Linked DNA regions of Homo sapiens. The protein of the gene in region 2 purifies or fractionates together with the protein of the main gene of each other region. This does not show direct contact. Each region holds a gene or a part of one and is shown on either strand. Other genes may lie near its edges. The genes, in order: GRAMD1A, ADGRG5, ALG9, ASPHD2, LSR, TMX4 and TMEM59.

What was found.
Region 1: the proteins of ADGRG5 (region 2) and GRAMD1A purify together in Homo sapiens (co-immunoprecipitation; 3 studies listed by BioGRID and IntAct, with this or other methods). This does not show direct contact.
Region 3: the proteins of ADGRG5 (region 2) and ALG9 purify together in Homo sapiens (co-immunoprecipitation; 3 studies listed by BioGRID and IntAct, with this or other methods). This does not show direct contact.
Region 4: the proteins of ADGRG5 (region 2) and ASPHD2 purify together in Homo sapiens (affinity purification with mass spectrometry; 2 studies listed by BioGRID and IntAct, with this or other methods). This does not show direct contact.
Region 5: the proteins of ADGRG5 (region 2) and LSR purify together in Homo sapiens (co-immunoprecipitation; 3 studies listed by BioGRID and IntAct, with this or other methods). This does not show direct contact.
Region 6: the proteins of ADGRG5 (region 2) and TMX4 purify together in Homo sapiens (co-immunoprecipitation; 3 studies listed by BioGRID and IntAct, with this or other methods). This does not show direct contact.
Region 7: the proteins of ADGRG5 (region 2) and TMEM59 purify together in Homo sapiens (co-immunoprecipitation; 2 studies listed by BioGRID and IntAct, with this or other methods). This does not show direct contact.

The regions. Positions count from the first base shown.
Region 1 is NC_000019.10:35,020,569-35,024,670, reverse strand, and holds part of GRAMD1A (protein Aster-A), read right to left. Parts: intron 3,170-4,102; coding exon 3,066-3,169; intron 2,981-3,065; coding exon 2,807-2,980; intron 2,721-2,806; coding exon 2,633-2,720; intron 1,772-2,632; coding exon 1,760-1,771; intron 1,436-1,759; coding exon 1,328-1,435; intron 1,245-1,327; coding exon 1,124-1,244; intron 975-1,123; coding exon of another isoform or gene 930-974; exon of another isoform or gene 886-929; intron 1-885. UniProt on the Homo sapiens protein: Cholesterol transporter that mediates non-vesicular transport of cholesterol from the plasma membrane (PM) to the endoplasmic reticulum (ER).
Region 2 is NC_000016.10:57,548,943-57,553,044, reverse strand, and holds part of ADGRG5 (adhesion G-protein coupled receptor G5 isoform 1 precursor), read right to left. Parts: intron 1-4,102. UniProt on the Homo sapiens protein: Orphan adhesion G-protein coupled receptor (aGPCR). Ligand binding causes a conformation change that triggers signaling via guanine nucleotide-binding proteins (G proteins) and modulates the activity of downstream effectors, such as adenylate cyclase.
Region 3 is NC_000011.10:111,781,427-111,784,915, reverse strand, and holds the end of ALG9 (alpha-1,2-mannosyltransferase ALG9), read left to right. Parts: 3' UTR 1-2,721; downstream 2,722-3,489. UniProt on the Homo sapiens protein: Mannosyltransferase that operates in the biosynthetic pathway of dolichol-linked oligosaccharides, the glycan precursors employed in protein asparagine (N)-glycosylation.
Region 4 is NC_000022.11:26,438,961-26,442,690, reverse strand, and holds part of ASPHD2 (aspartate beta-hydroxylase domain-containing protein 2), read right to left. Parts: intron 233-3,730; coding exon 119-232; intron 1-118. UniProt on the Homo sapiens protein: May function as 2-oxoglutarate-dependent dioxygenase.
Region 5 is NC_000019.10:35,255,069-35,259,170, reverse strand, and holds part of LSR (lipolysis-stimulated lipoprotein receptor isoform 2 precursor), read right to left. Parts: intron 227-4,102; coding exon 107-226; intron 101-106; exon of another isoform or gene 1-100. UniProt on the Homo sapiens protein: Probable role in the clearance of triglyceride-rich lipoprotein from blood. Binds chylomicrons, LDL and VLDL in presence of free fatty acids and allows their subsequent uptake in the cells.
Region 6 is NC_000020.11:8,009,323-8,013,424, reverse strand, and holds part of TMX4 (thioredoxin-related transmembrane protein 4 precursor), read left to right. Parts: intron 1-3,109; coding exon 3,110-3,225; intron 3,226-4,102.
Region 7 is NC_000001.11:54,050,405-54,054,646, forward strand, and holds the start of TMEM59 (transmembrane protein 59 isoform 2 precursor), read right to left. Parts: upstream 2,801-4,242; 5' UTR 2,785-2,800; coding exon 2,596-2,784; intron 1-2,595. Other genes in the region: TCEANC2 (transcription elongation factor A N-terminal and central domain-containing protein 2), read left to right, coding at 4,019-4,120.

The DNA.
Region 1 (4,102 bases), on a different chromosome or scaffold from region 2:
TCGGGGGGCAATGAGACCCCTAAAGATGAGCCTTCTGATATGGAAGGGTCCAATGAGACAAGATTTTCACCGTCACCCACAACTTCAGCTCTGATGGCCTTGGAAATGCAGGCAATGCCAGACTCTGTTTCCCATCCGCTTTCCCCCTCGACACCTTCCCCGAGTGCCTAACACTTGCTCTGACCCACCACAACTGCTGGCCTGACACTTGCTCTGACCCACCGCAACTGCTGGCCTGACACTTGCTCTGACCCACCGCAACTGCTGGCCTGAGTCTACTGGGGCCTGAGGGAATTGTCGTGTGATGACATCACATTTATTGGGCATCTGCTTTGTCCCTGGCACTAGGCTCAAACTCAGGACAGCCAGCCCACATCCAGTGTTTCCTGCAGGCCTGGCACCACTCCCAATGTCAACTTGTCTCATCCTCACAACAGTCTTTGAGGTAGCATCAGTCATTATCCTGTGCACAGAGGAGTCCACGGCCACCATGGCAAAATCACTTGCACGAGGTCACACACCGGAATTGGAACCTGGTTGTCTGAGTAGACATTGTCCCTGAACTACACTGGGTGTCTGGGTCCACTCCGTTTTGGAGATGAGACCTCAGGTCCTTTGGAGAGTCTCTCCCCTTCAGACCATGTGACCCCTTAGTTACCCCAGAGTGGGGTAGCGGGTAGAGGGACCACACGTGGCCTGCCCTGGCTGTTGTGATGTGTCAGGGGTAGGCCTGGGACCCCAGCAGCCAATGAGAGTAAGCTCCGTGGTCCCCTGTGGGGGGAAAAGGGTGGCCTCCAATGAAGCCAACCCTGGAGATGGGCACAGGGCAGAGTGGGCACGAGAGACTGACTCTTACTGCCATTGAGTGACCAAACCCGGCCGTGCCTAATGTGAGACGCCTCTGGACTTTTCTCCAGGACGTGAGCCAATCAGTTCTGTCTTCCATCCATGCTTCCATGCTTTCCCCTGCAATGCTGTGGGGTGGGGACTCTGAGCGGCTTCCTCATTTTACAGAGGAGGACACTGAGATCCGGAGAGGGGAAGTGCCTGCCGCACGGTGGGGTTTCAACACAGGACCCTGCAGCCCCGCAGCCCCGAGCCCTGCCCGAGCGGCGCCTCCTACCTCATCCAGGAGCTCCACGGAGGCCCGCAGGATCTGCCTCCACTTGTGCACCTCCACGCTGTGGAATTGCTTCTGCAGCGCCAGGATCTCGGCCCACTCTGTGGCCGTCTGGGGGAACTTGCTGTGGGGATGCCAGGCCTGAGCAGGGCCTTGGCCTCCCCCGATGTGCCCAAGCCCCCCCATTTCCCCAGGCTACCCACTCACCCCTTGGCCAGGGCCAGGCTGTGCCAGGACTCAAAGGTGTGGGCTGTCCTTTCCAGGGACCAGAGGCGGTAGAAGAGCAGGACGTTGAGGGCGATGAGGATGATAAGGCTGGGGACAGGGGTCAGAGGTCAGGATTCCTGGGGTCTAGATGCTCTGAACACCCCCAAACAACTACATCTTGTAGGGACACCTCTATCCCCCATTGCAGAGGAGGAGAATTAGGCTCAGAGAGGATGAGAGACATGCCTAGGGTTGCACAGTCCATAGCAGGGAAGTCAGTGTTCAAACCCAGGTCTGTCTGATGCCCATACCCTTGACTGCCATGCCAGGCCACCTCCCTGGGGGAGCTGGGGGGCATGGGGTGGGGAGAAGAGGCTGCAGCAGGGGTGGGGTGCAGGGAGGGGAGGGCAGGGGGAGGACTCGGGACCCTACCTCACACAGATCCTGCAGCAGCAGCAGTGAGGGGAGACAGAGAGATGAGCGCCGCCTGGCCTGCCCCCGACACCCCCAGCCCTCCTCACCCGGGGCAGCTCTTGGCTGAGAGCACCACGCCCCCTCACTGGATGAGAGCTGAGAGCTGAGGCTCAGAGGCTGAGCATGTAGCTGGCCTGACCCTCACCTCGCAGGGTCTGCTCAACCCCGGGATCCTGCTTCTGTTTCCTCCCAGCGTCCTGCCCGCCAACTCCTGCAGGCTTCTGGGCAGGAGTGTGGGTTCTCCCTGCCCAAGCCCTTAGCCTACGCGGTCTCCACTCTCTCAGGACGCCCATCCTGACTGCCCCCTCTGGCCTGGGAGGAAGCCGCCGCTGGCCTCCCAGGGCTTCCCCACTCCCAGCCCCAACCCCTCTGCCCATACCTCCCCCATCCCAGCCCGGATCACTCTGGTCTGGTGTGAGGTCTATCTTTTCCTCAAGGTCACTGCGGTGTCCTCAGCATCGCCCAGCTTAGGAGTGGGCACAGAGAACATAATGTCCATAAATGACCTCACTTGTTAGGCACACCTCTCCCTGTGCACCTAATTCCAGAATCTTTGTGTGCCTGCTCCTCCAGAAAGCCCCCCTTGATCCTTGGGTGAGGTCAGGCCCCTCTGATCTCCCATAGCCCCCCCCGGCTCTGCTGTTCTAGCAGGGAAGGCTTCTCCATGACAAACCGGCACATCCCAAACATTGCCTTGTCTAATCCTTGCTGTGAGCAAACCCACGCTCCCACTTAAGCAGAGAGCTCAAAGAGGCCACACACTTGCCCAAGGTCACACAGCCAGGAGGCAGGTTCAGGCCTGTGTGGCCACTGCTCCTGTCTCTTACTCACACAATGCTGATGAGAACCAGGGCACTGGGGATGCCTGCCCCGGGGCCCTGGTCCACAGATGGTTCGGAGAAGCGGGAGCTGAGGGAGCCTGCAGGAGAGCAGCTTGGAGTCAGATGGCCCAGTCCAGGACCCCCGATCCTCCGCCTACCCCAACCCGGCCCCAACGGAACGTACCCGAGGTGTGAATGCCGGCCCGGGCACAGGGGTCAGGATCTGGGTGCTGGGGCCCGTCCCCGTGAGCCCGCCAGCTCAGGGGCCGCTTCCGCCGCCGCAGGCCGGATAGCAAGCCCCGGGCATCCTTCCCGCCTTCCTCCAGAGACAGCTTCTCAGCCTTGGCGAGCTCTCGCTCTGCGTAAAAGAGAGGGGGCTCTGGATGTCCATACCTGGCCAGGCCATCCCCCAACCCACGCCCCAGCCGGCCTTCTGTCCCTACCCAGATGGTGGAAATAGTCTTCAATGCCGCTCCACGAGTTCTTCTCAATGAGCGACTTCACCAGGCTCCACGGCTGCTTTCGGTAGCGGATCTCAGAAGACACTCTGGGGTTGGGAGATCAGGGGAAGGAGGTAAGGGTCTGACTCCAGCCCTGGCTGCCCCGTCCCACAAGCTGAGTTTTTTCCTTCCCCTAATTCAGAGAGGGCCCCTTGTCACTCACAGACAAAACAGATGGGTTCCCTACCCCCCATGGCTTCCCTGGATACCCCATACACCACCCGCCCAGCCCAAATGCCAGCCAACTCAGCCCTCGGTCCTTCTCCACCCATGCCCACTACCTGGGCAACGCTCCCGGCGGCCTGAGCCCTGTCTACTCACAGACTGACGTCTTAACCAGACCATGCCCCTGAACCTCTTCCATTCGGCTGCTGCACCCCAGCTCCACATGGGCTCAGCTCAACATAGACAGCTGAGTCCCAAACTGACCTCCTGGTCTTTCCCCAAACCCATTCCTCCCTGCCGCCCCCATCTGGGTCAAGGGCAGCTCCGAAGTTGTAGTGATTTGGGCCAAATGCCTCGGGATATTCCTTGAGCTCTCTTTCCCTCACCGCCACATCCAATCTCTCAGCAAATCCTGTCAGCTAAACCTGCAAAATCTCTCCAGAATCTAAACTCTTCCCCCTCCATTTCCTCACCCTGATTCAGCCTCCGTCCCCTCCAGCCTGGATGTCCCAGCAGCCTCCTCCCTGGCCTCCCTGCTCCTGTACCTGTCTTTGCAGTCTGTTCCCACCAGAACAGAGGGAGCCAGAAGGAGCCTGGGACCACCTGAGTCAGGTCAGCGCCCTCCTGGCTCAGAGCCCTGGCCTGGTTGCACCTCACTCCAGGTAAAGTCAAGTCTTCACCATGAGCCACATCTGGTTCACCTTTTTTTTTTTTTTTTTTTTTTTGAGACAGGGTCTTGCTCTGTCGCCCAGGCTGAAGTGCAACGGTGTGATCATGGCTCACTGAAATCTCCACCATGTCTGGCTAATTTTTTA
Region 2 (4,102 bases):
AACTGCGCCCATATAAGATGGCAAACTTAACCAATAAATGTATGTGTTTTGACTGCTCCACCAACTAGCTGTTCCCCTGTCTCCCTCCCTCTTCTTGGGCCTCCCTATTCTCTAGGACACAACAATATCGAAATCAGAACAATGAATAACTCTACAATGGCCTCTTAAGTGTTCAAGTAGAAGAAAGAGTCACACATCTCTCATTTTAAATCAAAAGCTAGAAATTTTAAGCTCAGTGAGGAAGACACGTGAAAACCCAGATAAGCCAAAAGCGAGGCATCCTGCACCGAACAGTTCACAAAGTTATGAATGCAAAGGAAAAGCTCTTAAAGAAAATTTAAAGTGCTACTCCAGTGAACACATGAAGCAAAACAACCTTATTGCTGATATGGAGAAAGCTTCAGTGATCTGGATAGAAGATCAAACCAGCCCCCGGCCAACGTTCCCTTAAGCCAAAGCCTAGTTCAGAGCAAGGCCCTAACTCTTCAATTCTATGAAGGCCAAGGTGGGTGAGGAAGCTGAAAAAACGTGGAAGCTAGCAGAGGTTGGTTCATGAGGTTTCAGGAAAAAAGCCATCTCCATGACATAGCAGTACAAAGTGAAACAGCAAGTGCTGATGGAGAAGCAAGTTATCCACAAGAACTAGCTAACATCATGCATGAGGGTGGCCACATTAAACAACAGAATTTCAGTGTAGATGAAAGAGCCTCATATTGGAAGCGGATGCCATCTAAGAGTTTCATAGCCAGAGAGAAGAAATCAATGCCTGGTTTCAAAGCTTCAAAGGACAGGCTAACTCCCTTGTTAGCGGGTAATGCAGCTGGTGACTTTCAATGGAAGCCAATACTCATTTAACATCCTGAAAATCCTAGGTCTCTTAAGAGTTATGCTAAATCTATTCTGCCTGTGCTCTACAAATGGAATAACAAAGCCTGGATGATAGCAATCTATTTATAGCATAGTTTCCTGAATATTTTAAACCCACTGTTAAGACCTACTACTCAAAAAAAAAAAAAGATTTATTTCAAAATATTTCTGCTCATCGACAATGTACCTAGTCACCCAAGAGCTCTGATGGAGATGCACAAGGAGATCAATGTTGTTCTCGTGCTGCTAACACAACATCCATTCTGCAGCCCATGGATCAAGGAGTCATTTCGACCTTCAAGTCTTATTATTTAGGAAACAAATTTCATAAGGCTATAGCTGTCATAGATAGTGATTTCTCTGATGGATCAGGGCAAAGTAAATTGAAAATCTGGAAAAGATTCACCCTTCTAGATGCTGCAAGAACATGTGATTGTGATTCATGGGAAGAAGTCAAAATATCAACATTAACAGGAGTTTGGAAGAGGTTGATTCCATGCTTCATGGACGACTTTGAGGGGTTCAAAACTTCAGTGGGGAAAGTAATTACAGATGTGATTAGAATAGCAAGAGAACTAGAATTAGTAGTGGATCCTGAAGATGTGACTGAATTGCTGCAGTCTCATGATCAAACTTGAATGGATGGGGAGTCGCTTCTCATAGATGAACAATGAGTGGTTTTTTGAAATGGAATCTACTCCTGGTGAAGATATGGTGAACACTGTGGAAATGACAACAAAAGATTTAGAATATTAAATAAATGTAGTGGATAAAGCCCCTGCAGGGTTTGAGAGGACGGACTCCAATTTTGAATGAAGCTCTACCGTGAGTAAAATACTATCAAACAGCATCACATGCTACAGAAAAACATCTTATGAAAGGAAGAGTCAACTGATGTGGCAAACTTCACTGCTGTCTTAAGAAACAGCCAGCCACCCCAACCTTCAACCACCACCACCTTGATCAGCATCAAGGCAAGACTTTCCACCAGCAAAAAAGCGTGTGATTTGTTGAAGGCTCAGATAGATTGCTAGTACTTTTTAGCAATAAAGTGTCCTTTAACTAAGGTATGTACATTTTTAGACATAATGCTTTTGTACACTAAATAGACTACAGTATAATGTAAACATAACTTTTTTCATGTGTGAGACAGTCTCGCTCTGTTGCCCAGGCTGGAATGCAGTGGTGCGATCTCAGCTCACTGCAACCTCCGCCTCCACCTCACAGGTTCAAGTGATTCTCCTGCCTCAGCCTCCCAAGTAGATGGGATTACAGGCACACACCACCATGCTCGGCTAATTTTTGTATTTTTAGTAGAGATGGGGTTTCACCATGTTGGCCAGGATGGTCTCGATCTCCTGACCTCATGATCCGCCCGCCTCGGCCTCCCAAAGTGCTGGGATTACAGACATGAGCCACCGTGCCTGGCCGTAAGCATCACTTTTATATGCACTGGGAAACCAAACAATTTGTGTGACTCACTTTATTACCATATTTGCTTTACTGTGGTGGTCTAAAACCAAACCCACAATATCTCCAAGATATGCCTGTAAAACTCCTTGGAAAAAACAAAAAAGAAAATCCTTCTGACTTAGGTTATGCAAAGATTTCTTAGAAACAACACCAAAAACGTGATCCATGGCAACAACAACAACAAAAAACTGATAAGTTGAATTTCATCAAAATTAAAACTTCTGCTTTTTGAAAGTCATGGTTAGCAAAACGAGAAGATAAGCCACAGACTGGGAGAAAATATTTACAAACACATATCTGATGTTTTTAAAAAATTGTATCTGGACTACATAAAGAACTCTTACACAACTAATAAGAGGACAAACAACCCAATAAATATAGGAAAAGATTTGAACAATCACTATACCAATGAAGATGTATATAGATGGGCCGGGCGCGGTGGCTCATGCCTGTAATCCCAGCACTTTGGGAGGCCGAGGCGGGTGGGTCACCCAAGGTCAGGAGTTTGAAACCAGCCTGGCCAACATGGTGAAACCCCTGTCTCTACTAAAAATACAACAATTAGCCAGGTGTGGTAGCATGTGCCTGTAATCCTAGCTGCTCAAGAGTCTAAGGCAGGAGAATTGCTTCAACCCAGGAGGAGGAGGCTGCAGTGAGCTGAGATCATGCCACTGCATTTCAGCCTGGGTGACAGAGCTGGAACTACATGTTAAAAAAAAAAATGTATAGATGCAAATAAGCACATGAGAAACACTCAATATCATTAGTCATTAGAGAAATGCATATAAAAACCACAATCAGATATCACTACACACCTTCTAGAATGACTAGGATTAAAATGGTAATACAAAGTATTATGAGGATATAGAACAGCTGGAAGCCTCATTCATTTCTGGAGGGAATGTAACATGGAAGTGGAATCTAGAAAAGTCAAAACTATTGGATCAGAGAACAAATCAGTAGTTGCCAGGGAGTAGGGAAAAGATATTAACTACAAAAGGGCCTGAGACAACTTTTCAGGGGACAGCAATGTTCTATATTTTGATTGTAATATACATGTATACATGACTGTACACATCTGTCAAAATGCAAAAACTCCTCTCCAAAAGGGTGAATTTTATTGTATGTATACCTCTATAGACAAGACTTTAGAAATCCAATCAAAAAACATATTAAGAGGATGAAGAAGAGGAAATAGGGGAGGGAGGGCAAGAGAACTGATGATCCTCCTCTTAGAGAAAGGAAGTCAACAAAAACTTGCAAGGCTTCAAGAGGGAGAGCCACAAAACTCAAAATATGTGTTTGATGGTAGTGGCAGAGGAAAGTAGTTAAGAACATGAGTTCTCATTTTTCCACCATTGGATCTGCAAAGATCTGAAATATGATAGCACCCAGTGAGTCTGTAGGGACAGGCACATTCCTGCACTCTCTGTCTAAGATCTGAGCCTCATCTGCAAGGGGACGGCTTAGCAACACATTCGAACTTTACGTTCTGAATATCCTTTAAGCCAGGAAACTCATTCTTATGAATTTATCCTATGGAAAGAATAGGGCAAGCCAGGATTATACACATACAAGAATATTTAGAATAGTATTGTTAATAAAGAAAAGTTGAAAGCTATGTGAATGTCTATCAATAGAGGAATAAATAAATTACACTCCAATGCCATTCTGGAAAACAGTTCGACAGTTTCTTATAAAACTAAACATGTACCTATCATATGACCCAATAATTGCACTCTTGGGCTTTTATCCCAGAGAA
Region 3 (3,489 bases), on a different chromosome or scaffold from region 2:
GCAGGAAAGTAGTGCTTCTGTTTGGAAGTCATGTTCTTTTGCAGCCACACAGGATCCAAATATCAGTACTATTCCTGTAGTCAATCTGGGGTCACATTATAGGTGCCTTATTTCCCTAAGGGTAACTGATCTGAATATCTGCAAATAGGATGAATCTATTTTTCAGAAGTTCCATCTTTCATTTTTCTTTTTTTTTTTGAGACAGAGTCTCATTCTGTCGCCCATGCTGGAGTGCAGTGGCGCGATCTCGGCTCGCTGCAACCTCTGCCTCCCAGGTTGAAGCAATTCTCATGCCTCAGCCACCCGAGTAGCTGGGATTACAGGCATGCGCCATCATGCCCAGCTAATTTATGTATTTTTAGTAGAGTTGGAGTTTCACCATGTTGGCCAGGCTGGTCTTGGACTCCTGACCTCAGGTCATCCACCCGCCTCAGCCTCCCAAAGTGCTGGTATTACAGGCGTGAGCCACCGCACCCAGCCCCATCTTTCATTTTCAAAGAGAAGGGCATTCTAATAGGAACTGGTGCCAAGAGAGAAGAAAAGAAGTGATAACAGAAGAAATGGCTAGTTACAATATTAAAAAGCTCCTCTTTGAGATCTCCTCTGCAGGAATATCAGAGACGGAGTTGAAGCGCTGGAGAGGTAATAGGTCTAGACAGTACAGAACAATAACTGGGGAGTGTGTGAGGATAGACTGGGCTCCCCCTTGCTTGAAAGATCTCTGGCATTTAATTCTCAATTCTTGATTACTATTTTCCAGTGTAAAACTAGCACATATGATCTGACTACAGGACAGAGAATTTTAAGTGAAACATTTGCCTTACTTGCAGTAATAATGTGCTGTTCTTCACAGTAGCTAAGGCCCTCTATGTTTCCCAGAGGTAAATAAGAATCCAGGAATGGAGGTCCATCTGTGATGAATGGCTTTTTTCTAATCAAAGTAGTATAATGCTGTTTTATCTGTTTTGTCATCTTGTTTTTTTTTTTTTTTAAAAAAACAAAACCTTAATTATAATATAGCGCAAAGAAAGGCCAGGACTGATGCAGGGATTCCTTGGAAATATCAGTTCCTATCACTTTTAAAACCTGATTTTGGATCTCTCTGTTCTATGTATGTCTTTAGTGAGAGCACAATACATGGCAGAACGCTGTGCCAAATGTTATAGGTAAGGAATATAGAAATGAATGTTTTTTGTTGTGAAGGTGTTTTCATGTGATATTTTATAAACACATTTTAAAAAATCTCCATCACTTTTTAGTATAGGAAGGATAGCTTTGCCTGGGAAAAACAGTTTCAACACACCTGCTCAGAGTAGCAGTTCTCCCTCAAAAAAGCAGTGTTCAGCCTGCACTGACTGTTCTGCTTGCCAAAAGGAGGAAGCATGCAAGATACTTATTTCTCCATAGATTGTGGAGTATAGAGGGATGTGGGACTACAGATTATTATTTTTTTTCCCCGAGACAGAGTCTTGCTCTGTCGCCCAGGTTGGAACACAATGGCACGACCTCAGCTCACTGCAACCTCTGTCTCCCGGGTTCAAGCAATTCTCCTGCTTCAGCCTCCTGAGTAGCTGGGATTACAGGCACACACCACCACCGCACTCAGCTAATTTTTGTATTTTTAGTAGAGGTGGGGTTTTACCATGTTGGCCAGGCTGGTCTTAAACTCCTGACCTTGTAATCATCCCGCCTCGGCCTCCTAAAGTGCTAGGATTACAGGCATGAGCCACCGCACCCGGCCCAGATAATTTTTAATAGCCTTTGATCATGGGGTGAGTGAGGGAGTAGGTATACTTGGCAAATGCATGGTTCTCTGATTTCTAGCTCTAAAGCAGCCTTATCTGAATCCCCAAATCTTGTGATGCTGAGTACCATTACTGAACCAGTCTGCACGGTAGGCATCTGCTACCAAAATTTACCTCCTACCTGGTAGGTGTCATCTGATAAGAAAGAAGACAGGTTATTTTAATTTTTTGAGATAATCACAGAAAATTGCAGCCCATACTCTTTATTACCGAATTCAAGTTTGGAAATAGACCCTTTGTTTTAAATCATGATGGGTCTTTATCCCAATCATTTATCTGGGTCATTTTTCCAACTTTGGAGTTCTAGGAAAGAACCTTGAAAACCTGATATGATTCTGCAGCATGAGGTCTACGGTGACCATTTGGGCAAAGCTCCAGTGGCAATCATTTATTGTGTTTTGCATTTCCTGGGATTTATTGAAATAAGAATTCACTGTGATTATGTAGTCTTCTGGCTAGTATCAGGCAGCTCTGCTTTTAATTTGGTTAATTTTATTTTCTCTGAAGAGGGAGAAGAGGTACAATTTAATCTTGGCCTCCACAAGCATATTAAAGCTCACGTGTTAATCAGTGCATTCTTATGCTCCTACATTAAATGCCTTGGGTAAATGGATAAATGGACATGTGCCCAGCTTTAATTTTTTTTGCAACAGAAAGATCAGACTTCCGTATGGCATCGTTGGATTTCAGAGGCTTTCTGGTGTATCTGTAAATCTGAATGTTGCCTTCTGCCAGTCTGTATAACCAGGTGATTCATGCTGCAAATGAAATCAGGAAGCAGTAAAGTGTTAAAGCAAGAGTATTGTCCAATTCACTTGTCTTCCTGATCCTTGTACTTTATTTCACGTGTCGGTGTTTACATTACATACTTATATTTCCTGTGAAAGAAAGAGTTAAATAAATTGTAGCAGTTTGATTTTCTTTTTCTTAATGTGACATTTTCTCTTTTGCTTTTAAATCTTTCTTGGAAATTGGAAACTGAAGGAGCTCAAGTCCTTTCTCCCTGACTCCAGCCCTATTCCTCAGTGTGGAGACCTGCCTTCTACAGGCCAAATATCCCAGAATGTTTATTCTGAAAACTTTAGAAGAAGACTTTGGGAAACCCAGTGAGGATTAGTTTTATTTTAACTATGTTAAAACCACGCACAGTAGGAATTAATATATGGGCCAGGCGTAGTGGCTCACGCCTGTTATCACAGCACTGTGGGATGCCGAGACGGGTGGATCATTTGAGGTCAGGAGTTCGAGACCAGCCTGACCAACATGGTGAAACCACGTCTCTACTAAAAATACAAAATAGCTGGGCGTAGTGGCGCATGCCTGTAATCCCAGCTACTTGGGAGGCTGAGGCAGGAGAATCACTTGAACCTGGGAGGTGGAGGTTGCAGTGAGCCAAGATTGCACCATTCCACTCCAGCCTGGGCAACAAGAGTGAGACTCCATCTAAAAAAAAAATAATAAAAAATGAATAAAAATTAAAAGGAATTACTCAATACATGAACATTGTACCTAAAAGAGATGAAGTCCTGGATCCATCTTAAGTTTTTGGAATGAGAATCACTGGACTGTGAGAGTCTAATTTTCTTAGAAATCCTAATCCAGTTATATCTAACACTTAGGTAATTTCCCCCTTTGTTGGGGTTGTCAGAAGGAATAAATTTTTTTTAATTTTTATATTTTAGAA
Region 4 (3,730 bases), on a different chromosome or scaffold from region 2:
TGATATGAAGGGGCCTCCTTGGTACTTTCTGCCTGATTTTTCTGGAAACCTAAAACTTCTCTAAAAAAATAAAAGTCTATTCATTGAAAAAAAGGAAGTGGGAAAGGCAGCCACTCACCTTCATGGAACGCAGCATGCAGGAAAGAGTCATCAAAGAGAAGGCAGCGCCCTTCTGCCCAGCACTGGGGCTCTCCCCCCACCACCAGCTCACAGCCATTTGGAGTTTTCAGACCTTGTAGGAAAACCAGAGAAAGGAGAGTGAAGGCAGGCAAGATTCAGGGAAGGCCAGGAGATAGGGGGTGATTTGCCTTACTGAGAGTTTTTGACTTCTAAAGCACCTGACCTGCCTCACACCTCTGGAGCCCGTGCTATGGTCTGAAGGCTTGTGGGCTTGTGTCCCTGCAAATTCCCATGTTGAAACCTGACCCCAAGGTGATGGTGTTAGGAGGTGGGGCCTTTGGAAAGTGATCAGATCATGAAGGTGGGGTCCTAATGGGAGCAGCATCCTTATAAAACAGGCCCAAGGGAGCTTCTTTACCTCCTTTTGCATCTTTTTTTCTTTTCCCTTTTTTTTTTTTTTTTTTTGAAATGGAGTCTCTCTCTGTTGCCCAGGCTGGAATGCAGTGGTGTGATCTCGGCTCACCGCAACCTCCACCTCCCAGGTTCAAATGATACTCCTACCTCAGCCTCCGGAGTAGCTGGGAGGCACTGGAGTAGCTTACAGGCACCCACCACCTCACCCGGCTAATTTTTTTGTTTGTTTTGTTTGAGACAGAGTCTCACTCTGTCGCCCAGGCTGGAGTGCAGTGGCGCGATCCTGGCTCACTGGAACCTCTGCCACCTGGGTTCAAGCGATTCTCCTGCCTCAGCCTCCCGAGTAGCTGGGATTACAGGCACCTGCCACTGTGCCAGGCTAATTTTTGTATTTTTAGTAGAGATGGGGTTTCACCATCTTGGCCAGGCGGGTCTTGAACTCCTGACCTCGTGTCCACCCGCCTCAGCCTCCCAAAGTGCTGGGATTACAGGCGTGAGCCACTGCACCTGGCCGAATTTTTGTATTTTTAATAGAAATGGGGTTCCACCATGTTGGCCAAGCTGATCTCGAACTCCTGACCTCAAGAGATTTGCTTGCCTCAGCCTCCCAAAGTGCTGGGATTACAGGCATGAGCCACAGCACCTGGCCTGACATCTTTTTTTTTTTTTTTTTTTTTTAGATACAAGGTCTTGTTCTGTTGCCCAGGCTGAAATGCAGTGGCTCCACCATAGTTCACTGCAGCCTTCACCTCCTAGGCTCTAGAGATGCTCCAGCCTCACCCTCTTGAGTAGCTGAGACTATAGGTGTGCACCATCATGCCCAGCTAATTTAAACTTTTTTTTGTAAAGATGGGGTCTTGCTATGTTGACCGGGCTGGTCTCGAACTCCTGGCCTCAAGCTATCCTCCCACCTTGGCCTCCCAAAGTGTTGGGATTACAGGCAAGAGCCACTGCTCCTGGCCACCTCCTTTCACCATGTGAAGTCACAGTGAGAAGGTGTCATTTATGAACAAGAAGCAGGCCTTCACCAGACGCCAAATCTGCTGGCACCTTGATCTTGGGCTTCCAGCCTCAGAACTGTGAGTTCTACATTTTTGTTGTTTATAAGCCACCATCTAGATCTTCACTGCACTCTTGGCAAAAATTCATTCCTTCATTGGCTTCATCTATTCTGGGTCATGGATTCCTTTTATGAAAGTCACAGACTGACATTTGCACTACACTCTGAAGCCTAACCAGGGGACCCCCAGAAATCCAGGGAGGTTGGGTTTAGAACCTTGCCTTACCCAGTAACTGTGTTTACTGTAGTCTCCCCTCTAGGACTATCTCAGTTGCGATTAAAAAATCAAAGGCTCACACAGTGTTCTCCTCCTTGGGTTCTAGCCTTTTAATCCGTTTTGAGGCTGGAGAATGGCGTGCTCTTCGTCTGCCCTCATTCTGGGAAACTGGAGGACACTTCTAAGGTAATGGCTTAGGTTCAAGAGGAAATAGACTGGCAGCTTTGTAAGAAGCCGTATGCTTGGCTGGGCACAGTGGCTCACACCTGTAATCCCAGCACTTTGGGAGGCTGAGGGGTGGGCAGATCGCGTGAGGCCAAGAGTTCGAGACCAGCCTGGTCTCAAACATGGTGAAACCCTCTCTCTACTAATTATCCAAAATGAGCCAGGCATGGTGGCAGACGCCTGTAATCCCAGCTACTCGGGAGGCTGAGGCATGAGAATTGCTTGAACCCAGGAGGCGAAGGTTGCAGTGAGCCGAGATTGCATCACCGCACTCCAGCCTGGGCGAATCGCACCACTGCACTCCAGCCTGGGCAACAGAGTGAGACTCTGTCTCAAAAATAAAAATAAAAAATAAAAAATAAGCCGTATGCTTCAACCGGCCAGTGGGGTCCGGTTGGAACACTGCCATGTGTGACCCTCAGTCGCCCTTTCCAACACAAGGGTCTGCAGAAACACTTGGCCCCCATCACTACCTTGATGTCCAGAAAAGAAGGGGCCACCGTGGCCATCTAATGATTTCAGAAGGGGTTGGGTCAGCCCAACAGCTCTCAGGAAGGCCCACCCAGGGGGAAGCAGAGTCCTGGAAGAGGAGCTGGGATGGGTGGTGGTCTCATCTGTCTTCAGTGACTCACTGTGACCACAATGACCCTGGGCCAGTTGGCATTCCCCTCTGATTTAATGTCCTTTAGCATAAAAATGAAATAGCTTTCCTTCCAGCAGCCAGAGTATTTTAATGTATTCTTTGAACCAGAAATAATGGTTCCAGGAAGTACGTTCACAGTAATAATTCAAATAAAGAGGCCACATGGAGGAGACAGAAGGACGGAGGACTTGGGGACAGACGACTGGTTGTGACTCTTATGTGCTGTGTGACTTTGGGCAAGTCACTCAGCCTCTCTGAGCCATACCCTCACCTGTAAAGAGGGGACATTAGCATACTGAACCTTCCAGGGCTGCTATGGGACTTCTATCCTTGTTACCAATAACTGAAGACCTACTGTGTCTTCCTACTCAGCTTTGTGCTAAATACACACTTAACAGGTATCACTTCACCCACTTTCCAGATGGGGTAACTAAGAAGTTAAATGACCTGCTAAAAAGTTACCATTTAGTGTTGCTGAGTCAGCCTGACTCCAAAGAACAGGCTGTTATAAAACTGGACATGATGATATAAATGCTAGTTGTTATACTATTAACAGAGGAATTAAAGTGATTGTGGAGTTTTCGATTTTTCTTTATTTATTATTATTTTTTTTGAGACAGAATCGTGCTCTGTCGCCCAGGCTGGAGTGCAGTGCCATGATCTCAGCTCACTGCAGCCTCTGCCTCTTGGGTTCAAGCAATTCTCCTGCCTCAGCCTCCCGAGTAGCTGGGATTACAAGTGTGCACTACCGTGCCCAGCTAATTTTTGTATTTTTAGTAGAGATGGGGCTTCACCATGTTGGCCAGGCTGGTCTCGAACTTCTAGCCTCAAGAGATCCACCTGACTCGGCCTCCCAAAGTGCTGGGATTACAGGCTTGAGCCACTGTGCCTGGCCTGATTGCTGATTTTCTTGTAGTTAACATGTCTGATAGTTAATACTGAGTTTCAACTTGATTAGATTGAGGGATACAAAGTATTAATCCTGGGTGTGTCTATGTGGGTGTTGCCAAAAGAGATTAACATCTGAGTCAGTGGGCTGGGGAAGGCAGAT
Region 5 (4,102 bases), on a different chromosome or scaffold from region 2:
GCCCAGAGGGTAAGCTGGAGGGCAGAGGGCGGACACAGGGGAGGGCAGACAGAACAGAAGCGGACAAAAGGAAGGGCCATGCCTCCCCCTTCCCAGGCCCACTCACCAAGGACGATGAGCTCTGCGTAGGCCTCATTGTTCCCCTGGAGGTCCTGGGCTGAGACCACGGAGCAGTAATACACACCACTGTCCCCCCACGCCGTCTGGTCAAAGGTCAGGTCAGCATCTGAGTCGGGATGAAAAGGCGTGAGGGCACCTTGGAGGCTGGGGCACCTAACCCCTGGAGGGCCAAAGACCCCTTCCCAGCACACCCAGGAGGGGGCAAGCAGTGGGCTGGGCAGGCTGCAGATGATCAAATGCATATGCAAAGATTCCTACCAAGGGCACACGGCCTTTTACACCCCGTTCTAAACACCTGGACTACTGCAAGAAGTCTGTGAGGCAGGACCATTATCACTTCTGTTTTGTGGATGACATTTCGGGTCTGGAAAAGCTGCACAGCTCTTCAGTATAGAGCAGTAATGGTGCCCTCGGAGCCTGAGGTTGTTTTTTTTTTTCTTTCTTTAGAGACAGGGTCTCACTCTGTGGCCCTGGCTGGAGTGCAGTGGTGTAATTATAGCCCACTGCAACTTCAACCTCCTGGACTCAAGCAATCCTCCCACCTGAGTAGTTAGGACTACAGGCACTCCACCATGCCCAGCTTTTTTTTTTTTTTGTTTGAATCGGAGTTTCACTCTTGTTGCCCAGGCTGGCATGCAATGGTGCGAACTAATCTCGGCTCACTACAATCTTCGCCTCCCAGATTCAAGCAATTCTCCTGCCTCAGCCTCCCATGTAGCTGGGATTATAGGCACCTGCCACCACACCTGGCTAATTTTTGCATTTTTAGTAGAGATGGAGTTTCGCCATGTTGACCAAGTTGGTTTTGAACTCCAGACCTCAGGTGATCCACCCCCACCTCAGCCTCCCAAAGTGCTGGGATTACAGGCGTGAACCACCACACCCAGCAGTCTGTGCTTCTCAACTTACAGCCATCTCTGAACCACCTCTCAGAGCCAAAGTCAGAACTCCCCTGATGTGAACTGCCACCCACAGGGCCTAGTGTAGACCCCAGGGATGGGTGTGGAGATAAACAGGCCAGATTCTAGGTACCAGGAGATGCCCAGGCACCCATAAGGAGTGGGTGTGTCTATGTGGGAGAGAGAGACTTACCCTCCCAGTGCCTTGGTTCCTCCCCCTCCCCTTCCATCCCCACATTCCAGGTCAGGCCCAGGGCTTGGGGACGCTCTTGTCTGAAGCAGCTGCAGGCAAGGAGCCTGTTAACTCTACCATCCATCAAAGTGTTTTGGCACATCCTGTTTCCTCTCTGCTTCTCAGGCACTAATTAAATACCTTCAGCCTTTCACCAGGGTGGGACCAGGGCACCTACCAGGCAACTCTGCCTTAAGCCACTGGGGACAGAAGTAGGCTACATTGGGCATCTCGGGCAGGAAATGCCCTCAGCTTCCCGGCCTCTTTCCTCCTAGCCTGACCTGCCTGCCACCTTCCCAAGGACGCGCTGCCCTCCTGCATGACAGCTCTGTGACGGCAGCAACCACGCGTGCTGCAGTCCACAGCACCTGGCACCCCCAGGAATGAAAGAACCCTTGCTTTCTTCATAAGGAAGGCCTCATGTCTACAGAAAAATCCTCCTTGCAACAGTGTCTGGCTACAGCATTCCAGACGCCTTCCCTAAGGTCCCATAGTCCCATGGTCCCCAAGGCCCTTGGCACGACGTGGTCTCTAGCTACCGTGCCAGCCTCACCCCTGCCATCGCCTTGGTTCTAGATTTGCACTGTCCCCCTGTGGGCTGGGCTTCTCCCACGGCTCCCCCACCCAACTGCTGAAGTCTTATCTCCCAGCTTAGGGGCCGACCATCCTTTGCCTGGTGAAAATGTGGGCTCCGTGAGGCAGAGCCCTGTCTGTCTCAGCCACTGCTGGGTCCCCAGTGCCTGACACAATACCTGGCAAGGAGCAGAAATGAACACCCTCTTGGCCGGACATGGTGGCTCACACCTGTAATCCTAACACTTTGGGAGGCTGAGGCAGGTGGATCACTTGAGGTCAGGAGTTCCAGACCAGCCCGGCCAACATGGTAAAACCCCATCTCTACCAAAAATGTAAAAAATTAGCTAGGCATGGTGGCACGCACCTGTAGTCCCAGCTACCCTGGAGGCTGAGGCAGGAGAATTGCTTGAACTCAGGAGGCAGAGATTGCAGTGAGCTGAGATTGCACCACTGCACTCTAGCCTGGGCAGTAGAGTGAGACTCCATCTCAAAAAAAAAAGAAAAAAAAGGAAACGAACCCCCTCTCCTCATGCTAAAGTCCCTTAGCTTTTGTCATCTGTCTCATCATTCTGGGCACATGGCTGGATTCAAAGACACATTTCTTTCTTTCTTTCATTCATTCATTCATTCATTCATTCATTCATCCTTCAACAATAATTACTGAGTACCACCTATGTTCTAGGCAGTATTTGAGACACCTGGGATACCACAGCAACAGTTCTCAAACTGCAGCCTCTAGACCCTGGGGTTCCCCAAGACGTTTTCAGGAGATCCTGAGGTCAAAGTTATTTTCCCAACAATACTAACTGTGGAGTTTTCCAGAGGCTACGTGACATACAATAGATATCACAACAGACTGAAGCAGCTCTGAGAAGCCAGGCTCTTCTATCCAGCCAGGCTTCGGAGACTTGCAAAAAAATAAAACCATGCCACCTTCTCATTCACAATGTTTTGTCTGATTTCAGAAAATGATTATTTTTTTCATAAAAGGTATTTTATTTATGTTAATCTATAATGACTTTATTGTCATTTAAACTATTTTGTAAACTTTTCTCATTCTGCTGCCTATGAAAACAAACTCTTTGAGCTCTTAATTTTTTTTTTTTTTTTGAGATGGAGTCTCGCTCTGTTGCCCAGGCTGGAGTGCAGTGGCACGATCTTGGCTCACTGCAGCCTCTGCCTCCTGGGTTCAAGCGATTCTCCTGCCTCAGCCTCTTGAGTAGCTGGGATTATAGGCGCCTGCCAACATAACTGGCTAATTTTTGTATTTTTAGTAGAGACAGGTTTTTCACTGTGTTGGCCAGGCAGGTCTGGAACTCCTGACCTCAAGTGATCTGCCCGCCTGGGCCTCCCAAAGTGCTGGGATTCCAGGCATGAGCCACCTCGCTAGGCCTGAGCTCTTAATTAACCTCAAAATCAAGAATATAAAAGAGGCCTAAGCCCGGAACCTTTGAGTTATAAATCCTTGCCCTTGCCCTTCTAGAGTTCAGATTCTAACTAGGAAAGAAAGACAAATATAAAATGTTAACTATGTCACATATCAGACAAAGATAAGCTGTATGGAGAAAACGAATCAGGGACAGCAGAGAGTGCCAGGCGTGGAGTGGGGGCTGTGCCATTTTAAACAAGGAGGCCAGGGAAGGCTTCCGGATATGGTGACCTTCAGAGCAGATGTGAAGGGGTTGAGGACACGACTTACCCTAATGATCAGGCATCTAAGCCACTGTTTTTTTGTTGTTGGTGTTGTTTTTTAATTTTGAGATGGGATCTTGCTTTGTTGTCCAGGTTGATCTTGAACTCCAGGGCTCAAGTGATCCACCTGCCTCAGCCTCCCAAAGTGCTGGGATTACAGGCATGAGCCACCGCCCCTAGCCCCCACCGTTTATTGAGCTCTTACTATGTGCTGGGCCCCTCTACACACATTCTTTCATTGAATCCTCATAGAATTCCAAACTAGGTTCTCCTAAATCCCCAGGTTTGCCACAATGCCCTCTTCGTCCATCATTTTTCCACCTGTATCTTTTTTGAGAGGGCCTAGCTTGGTCGCCCAGGCTGGAGTGCAGTGGTGCGATCATGGGTCACTGCAGCTTCGAACTCCTAGGCTCAAGCAATCTTCCCATCTCCAGAGTAGCAGGGTGTGCCATCATGCCCCGCTAAATTTATTTTTTTGTAGTCTCTGGGTCTCACTGTGTTGCCCAGGCTGGTCTCCCAGCTCCTGTCCTCAAGCAATCCTCCTGCCTCGGCCTCCTGAAGTGCTGGGATTACAGGCATGAGC
Region 6 (4,102 bases), on a different chromosome or scaffold from region 2:
TAATTTTACATACCACTGTGACCTGCAAACAAGTCAACAAAAGTTCAGTAGAAAAGATAACAATTTACAGTTTAAATGACTATAATGGAGCTAATTGCTCTTGGAGGCTCTTAAGGATTATGTGTAAGAGACAAAGTTATGGCAGGTCATATCTTTTATAGTTCTTAGGAGAAGATTGCCAGTGTGAACTAGTTTGAAATAAATTTAATGAAGATCATGTTCAATTATTTCTGATGTGTTTAATTTATGCATATATACATAAATTATATATATATGTATCTATGTGTACACAGAGTGAGAGAGGAGCATGAAGGTCACATGACTGATCCTTGCATTCATTTTGTCCCTGGAGATATTTTACTTAGTTTCTAAATTCTTATACAAATTACTGTTCTTTAGATACAAAAGAATATTAAAAACTTTAAAAACTGCAGCAACAATGGACCAGTTCCCATGCTAAAGACTCAGAGCTGGCTTATCTCTACCACTGAAAGAACATCTGGGTGCATTCCAACACAAATCAGCTGTGATTAAATCTGTGAAATAATGGCATTAACAATGCCACAGACCAGTGTATAGCAGCTATGTAGAAATGGCATATCTAAAATTACCTCAGTGGCATATCCGAGGATGCATTATAATTGTATATCTGAAGGTCAGTTTCACCAAAAACCAACTTAGTAATAGCCTATCTAGAGATTAAGTCCTGTATTTTTTAAATTATGAAACATAATTACTGATGCAGCAAATGTGCCTGTGATTTATATGCAAAGAGCGTCCTAGGGAAATAAAGAGGATCTGAAGTTCATTATATTATATTATACTTCAAGATAACTTCCTTATTCTTGTTACTTTCTTATAACTTCTTTCTCCCTCTGAATGTTGAAGTTTTATATTCCTTGACGATTTTTATCAAAGAAATACCTCCATCTGTGTTCTTGCTCTGAGTGGTCTTAAGCACATCTCTATACCTGCTTTGTCTGTTTGGCAGTGAGGCTGTAAGGTCAGATGAGCTAATGCATCGTAAAAGTGTCTTGAACCCCAAGCAGTATTACAAATGAAATTTGTATTAATGGTTGCTCCTATTAAATAAATATGTGCCTGCTTCGTATTTCATCTGATCTCTCAGTAACCTAAGGTAGCTACTGTTATTATCCCATTTTACAGTTGAGGAAACTGAGGCATGGAGAGATTATTAACCTGCCCAGAATATCATGATTAATTCCTGGTTGATCTTTCTGATTGTTATAGCAGAACTCTTATCCAACATCATGGAACGCTTGTTGAAATGTACTTGATAATTCAGAATTCCTTTTTTTCCTAAAGTTTGCCAACTGCCTGAGTCTCATCTGTTAACTTGGATATTTAGAAACTACATAGAAAATAACTTATTTTCTCAGATGAAGAATATGATTTTCATTAAAGTTGATACACTTGTTTATTCAGCAAACATTTATTGAACACCTACTGTATATCAAGAATGTACTTTGCCTTGGAAATACAGAGACACGAAGGTTTAAAAAAATCTACATTCAAAGATGTCAGCAGATTATTTTGTTGTTCCTGTCTTCTGGATCTCAGGATTTGGACAGTGAGCTGTAATGGAAAGATTAATGATGTTTTAGCATGATCTTGGAATTAGCTATATAGTAGTCTTTTCTAGAGATGGTGAACAACTGTGCTTGCTAAGTCTTGCTGCTTCTGGGGCCTGTCTGGAGAAAGTAATGAATGCTTTGGCTTTGGGTAGTCCATTCTCTTCTGGGTTCTGCCTAATTTTCAGTACTTTTTGTGAAATAAATGCATTCCTTCCCCTAGTCTTCGCTTTTTAACCCCTGACTCATCTTTTATAATGCGAAAGATCAAAATCTTGCCCAATTTCAGTTTTTGTTTTTTGTTTTGTTATTCAGCAAAGTTGGTTTATATGTGTCATTGCATTGATTTTTTTTTTTAATGATACTTACCAGCATGCTTTTGCACAGTTCAGAATTTTGAAGGGATTTGTAAATGATGACCTGACAGGCAACTTTGAGCCTAAATCTTGTTACAGGATTTGATCAGTTTTGTACTTTTCCCCTTACTTTGTTTCCCTTCCTAAGGCATTTTGTGTGTGTGAGTGTTATATTCTATTGGCAGGCATTCTTTTCTACTTCTCTTTCTCTCCCCTGGCCCCTTTCCTCCCTTAATACAGAAATAATAGGTGCCACATTTTGTAAAAACAATTCAGGAATGGAACAAATGAAAAATAAATTGGAGGGAATTGGCATTTTAAAAATGCTCAGCCTGCTTACCCACAAGTTGGTATATTTCTCTATTTATTCAAGACTTTATTATGAAAAATTTTAAACAGACGCAAAAATAAGAATAATATGATGTTTGCCCCCCATGCTTATCTCTGTTCATTTCTGGATTGTACCGTCCACAAGGAGAGGAGGCACCAAATCTCCTTCACAATTGTAGCCTCAGCTTCTGCCATAATGCTTTCTTAGTATTTATTGAATGAAAAATAACTGTAAAAAGTAGGGTTCTGACTTGAAAGCCAAGGTATTTTTAAATTCTGCTAAATTTAAGAAAGTGTTGGGTAGAGCGGGTTTAGCCTATAGCTTCTACTTTCCTTTTCAGAATGTTCAGAATTACCACAGATCTTGGAAACATTCTTGAGGATGCTCAAACAACAGATTTGGTCTCTGCCCATCAGATCTGTAGCTTTGATGGATTTGAAACTGGTTTGGCTAGTTTAGGGTCACCCTGTGAAAATTGTTCTCCTTTAGTGGGGCACTAAAAAGAGCTCTTACCCTCAAAGATCAAAAGCTATCTGGAGAGAAACATAATTGTATGAATAGCATTGAAATAAAATGTTTATGGATAATAATAATTATTGGAAATATTCTCAAACTTTGGCCAAATTTTTTCCTATAGAATTGACATTCATACATTAAATCCTAGTGGGGACAATGTGCTTCTGTTTTTCTATGTCAAATGACTTTGGAAAAGCCTCCTTTTATAATTTCCCTTTTTTAATAATTTATTTTTTAATTTAAATACTCGATTTCTCTGTTTTGCAGATTTCTTCTGTATATTTATCAATATAATTCTTATTCTTCTCTTATAGTTACGCCCCATGGTGTCCATCCTGCCAGCAGACTGATTCAGAATGGGAGGCTTTTGCAAAGAATGGTGAAATACTTCAGATCAGTGTGGGGAAGGTAGATGTCATTCAAGAACCAGGTACTGTGAATGTTGCACATAAAATGCAAAAGTTTACCGACTTTTTATTTTGAATTTTTTTCAAGCATATAGAAAAGTTGAGAGTCTGGGATATTGATTACCCATGAACTGGCCACCTTTAAGTAGCAGATTACATTTTTTGCATACTTGGATCTGTCTTTACGTGTATGTGTTTGCACATACATATTTGCATATATATTTCTATTTTTTCTATTTTTATTTTGCTGAATCATTTGAAAGTAAGTTATCGACATCATGATAATTTACCCTTCAATTCTTTAGCACGTTAAAGGCTTCTTAATTATTTCCCATGTGTCTTTTTTTTTTTTTTTTTTTTTACAGTTTTTTGACTGAGGATCCAATCATGGTTCATAAATTACATTTGGTTGTTAAGTCTTTTTAGTCTCTTGCAATCAACAATTATCCCTCATTTTTTAAAATGACATTGATATTCTGAAAAGAAAAAGCTACAGTTTTCCTAGGTGTTTCCTTATGGTGACATGGAACTTATAGGAATATTAACTTATACGAGTATTTTCTGCAAACTGAGAGTTTAGGTGCATGATTTAGCTTAGACATTTATGGCAAGAGTACTTCTAAGATGATGCTGTGACTTCATATTACATCTCATTAGAAGGGATATGCTATCACCATTAGTAATGCTAATTTTGAGCACTTGGATATGGTGGTGACACTAAGTATCTCAATTATGAAGAAAGGATCTCACATTGTGATTAGCAAGTAACCTCTGGGATGATTTTTTGGGGTTTTAAGATCCATGATGCTCTTGCCTGAATCAGATATTATATTTCACTGTGGTTCCAGAGAGTGAATTTCTAGTTCTGTCATTCTGTCTACACTGATTAGCTGTGAATGA
Region 7 (4,242 bases), on a different chromosome or scaffold from region 2:
GAGCCACCGCGCCCAGCCTAAAACGAGATTTCTATCTCGTTTTTCAAACGCTATGTGAGTTTGAAAATTCATCTAATTTCTTACAATACACAGTGCTTTTTCCTGGAGCACAAAGCACAGAGGAGAGCCAATAGAAATCAGTGACATAATTAAATATGTTTCTTTTTTTTTTTTTTGATGCAGAGTTTCCCTCTTGTCGCCCAGGCTGGAGTGCGGTGGCGCGGGCTCACTGCAACCTCTGTCTCCCGGGTTCAGGCGCTTCTCCTGCCTCAGCCTCCTGAGTAGCTGGGATTACAGGCGCCCGCCACCACGACTGGCTAAATTTTTTTGTATTTTTAGTAGAGACAGGGTTTCACCATGTTGGCCAGGCTGGTCTTGAACTCCTGACCTGAGGTGATCCACCCGCCTCAGCTTCCCAAAGTGCTGGGATTACAGGAGTGAGCCACCGCGCCCGGCATTTTTTTATTTTTATTTTTTTGAGACACGGTCTCATTCTCAGACTGGCGTGCACTGGCGACATTTCGGCTCACTGCGACCTGCGCCTCCCAGGCTCAAGCAAGCCTCCCACCGAGTAGCTGGGACTACAGGTGCTCGTCTCCATGCCTGGCTAGTTTTTTTGTTTTTCTTTTTTCCAGAGACGGGGTCTTGCCATGTTGTCCAGGCTGGTCTCAATCTCCTGAGCTGAGGTGATCCACCCACCTCGGCCTCCCAAAGTGCTGGGATTACAAGCGTGAGCCATCGCACCCGGCCGAATATGTTTAATGCAAGTTTATTAATAGGAGGCAGCATAGTGTAGCCAGTTTTAAGCTGAATTCCTGCTCCACTATTTCTTGGGTATGTGACCTTAGGCAAGTCACTTAACCTTTCAGAGCCTCAATTTCCTTAATTTTAAAACCCTACTTTACAGGGTTGTTGTGAGAATTAGGGATAATGGTATGATAAATCTCCCATCACTCTGGCTAACAGTGGAGTCTATATAAATTTCAAGTCCAGGACCTATAGGGAGCCAGATGATTTGGAGTTCTTTGTGAGAAAAGCTTTAATAAATAAGTAAAAATAGTTTATAGATATAACACCAATTGTTAGAAAATAGTGGACATTATTAAAGTACCTACAACTTCCAGGAAGGTATCCTTTCAAATTATTTGATTATTTTCCCAACATTCTGGTTTATACCACAAAATTGCCGAGAAAATCCCAAAAAAGGAAACAAACCCTAGAACAATAGAAAGTAAGTCTCAACCCAATTCCAGGCCAAATCAATATTAATGAGCTTCTTCATACAATCCTCTTAATGATGAGAAGTTTACAAGAGGTGGAGAAAAATAACGTGGTTAGAAGCAGTATTCATTGATTTAAGTCTGAAGTTAAAACTTCTCACTTCTTTCTCGATTGTTACATAAATCTCTGGAAAAATTTAGTACAGTCCCTTCTCCCACACTTTTTTTTGAAAATTGATAATCTCCATGCAGTTTAAAATCCAGCCGTAACAAAATCTGAGAAGTGCCGGCACTTAGAACTTTTCATTTCAAAGACCTGAAAATACTCGCCAATATGGAACATCCTAAGCTTCACTGGAACTGTCTCCGTAGCCACTCCAGTTTTAGAGAGCAAGGAGGTCCAGCCACAATGGTTAAGCAAATAGCATAGAGGAGATGAAGGAAAAACGAAGAGGAAACCACCAGCAACATCAACAAAAGCTCTCATAAAACAACGTGGGGGAGGGCATATACTCAAATCATACATGGGAAAGGTGTGGTGGGAATCATCAAGCAATTTAGAATGTTGAGTAAACAGAGTTCTTAGGCTGAAAAACCAACGTGAAGAGGGTTAGGTATGTAATTAAAAGAAAGGGGGGAAGCATAGAGAGGAGGGCCATTCCTCTCTGTAAGCTGCGAACCCCCTCCTGTCCACAGTCTCATTTCTTCACCCACTCCACGAATTCCCCGTTTTCTGCACTGAGTGGTCAGTTTCTGGTAGGCAGACACCTAATTGCCTCTTCTCTAACCCAGTCCCTCTTGGCAGCGTCTTGGACACAGTAACTCAACATAGGCAGACAGCATTCCTGAGCGTCTCGCTACTCCCTGAGCTGCCTTCGTGACGCTTTTTATACCACAGTGGAATCGTCTACTTGTCTGACTCCCCGAAGACTGCGCTCCTGGCCCCGAGAGGCGCTTAGTAAACAAGGGTTATCAATCAATCATTTGTGGACTCGCGTATCTGCGCCTCCCTTTCTACAATCCCCCCTTACGCTCCCTTAGGTGAGGACCCCGCATTAATCATCCATATCCTCCCCTATCCTCCTCCGAGTGCTCGACTCCCCTGCAGCCCGGCAAGCTCCCAGAGGAAAGGGATCGCGTCTTTCTCATCTTTGTGTCCCCCAGCCTATCACAGGGTAGTGCAGGACAAACTTCCGGTAATGACAGCAGAAATGGGGTGCAGGCAGGATTAGGGAGGAAAACAGGAGCTACACAGATGGGAGACAGCGATTGAAGGGCCGATTTAACAGCCAGGTTGCCAGAGCCGACATACGTGTGGGGAGCCGAGAAATGGGCTGCAAGGGAAGGGTCGCAGCCCGCTCCGGACGGGCCCTACCTTAGGGTAGGTGTGCAAGGGGTAGGTCAACTGACAGGCCCGGTGGCAAGACGCCGTATCACCCAAGACCGAGTCAAATGCTTCAGCCGAAGCGGTCCCCGAACCTCCGGCCAAGGCCATGGTCAGCAGCAGCAGCGGCGGGAGCCCCAGTTGGGTCCTCACCCAGAGGCTCCCCTTCGGCGCCGCCATCTTGTTCCCCTCTGTCACAGCAGCTCAGCTTGTTGCTGTTTTCTCGGAAGGGTTTCCTCCTCCTCCTGGGGCCAGCCCCCTTCTCCGCCCCACCGACCGTTGCTTCCGCCTCCGCTGTCACTTCAGCTCCGCCCTCACCCGCCAGAAACTGCCGCCTCCTGCCTCACCTCTGGGACTACGAACTTCTTCTCCTAGGCTGGCGTGAGGAGGGGAATTCAACCATCGCAAGCGTTAGCGCGAAGCGGGGCCTCCTGACTTCTTCCCTTCGCGGGGCAGGCTGGGGCATGTAGTTCTCCGTAGGCGGGAGGCGCACGGTGCTGTCGGGAAAGTTGGTCTCGGAAAACTACAGCCGCCCTCAGCGCGCCTTCCGCCCGCATTTCTTCGCAGTGCATTCTGGGGAATGTGGTTCGCTGTGGCCCAGAGGCGCGAGGGCCGGCGGAGTTTCTTCAGAGGAACTACCGCCCTGGGAGGAAGCGTCTGTTTAGTTTCAACACAGACGACTGGGCTTGGGAGCCTACGAGGTTGCAGTCTGGAGGGCGCCAACAGCAGCTACCAGGGCTGCTTTTCCTGGTGGGTCTCACGTCAGACCGTTGTTGGGTGCCCCTACCCGGGCTCCTGAGTGCTGGGAACGAGGAGGATGGGGTTTCTCCTTGTTCGGGGATCCAGAGATTACAGCCGTGGGTAGGGTCCTCTGACCACCGAGCAGTTTGTTCTAGGGGATGCTGCGTATTGTGAGACCCTCTGCTGAGTTCTGGAGGTGGTTGTCGGTTGCTGATTACCAGGGCAACCCTTGGGATTATGGCTGTGGTGAGGTGGTTGTTAAGAGGGCGTCACTGAGCCTAATGTAATCCTAACCCTTTCACAGCCCAATCTTATTTGGAAGAGGGCTTAGGTGCACGCTCTAGCGGGGATTCCAATATTGGGCCAATTCCCCCAATGTTGGAATCCTCGCTAGAGCGTGCACTTCTGGAAGCTAGGAACCTCCTAACTCAGGACGTAGACTGATGATTGATTACAGTTTCAATTCTTCGGAAGATCTTTCTTTTAAAGAGAAAATCTTACTTCCTGTCAATTCCACTCGAGGCCCCATAATTCATGAATTCTTCCAGAGAACTCAATTGTGTTACTTTGGGGAAAAAATATCATGGCAGTCTTTAGTGGGGTTTTAGAATCTGCCCTCTTTCTTGACCAGAACACGCTGCAAGCACGTCAAGGTAGTCGGAGTCCCCTAACAATGGATAAATTCGTCATTCGAACGCCTAGAATCCAGAATAGCCCTCAGAAGAAAGATTCTGGAGGAAAGGTTTACAAGCAGGCCACGATTGAATCTCTGAAGGTGAGAGGGGATCTGGGGCTAGAGGAAATGTGCAAAGGACTGATAGCAAGGTGGTGCTAGAGGTTCTGTTGTGGAAAGACCTATGAATTATTTCTTGTTATGCCTCCTCCTCAAAGTGTACC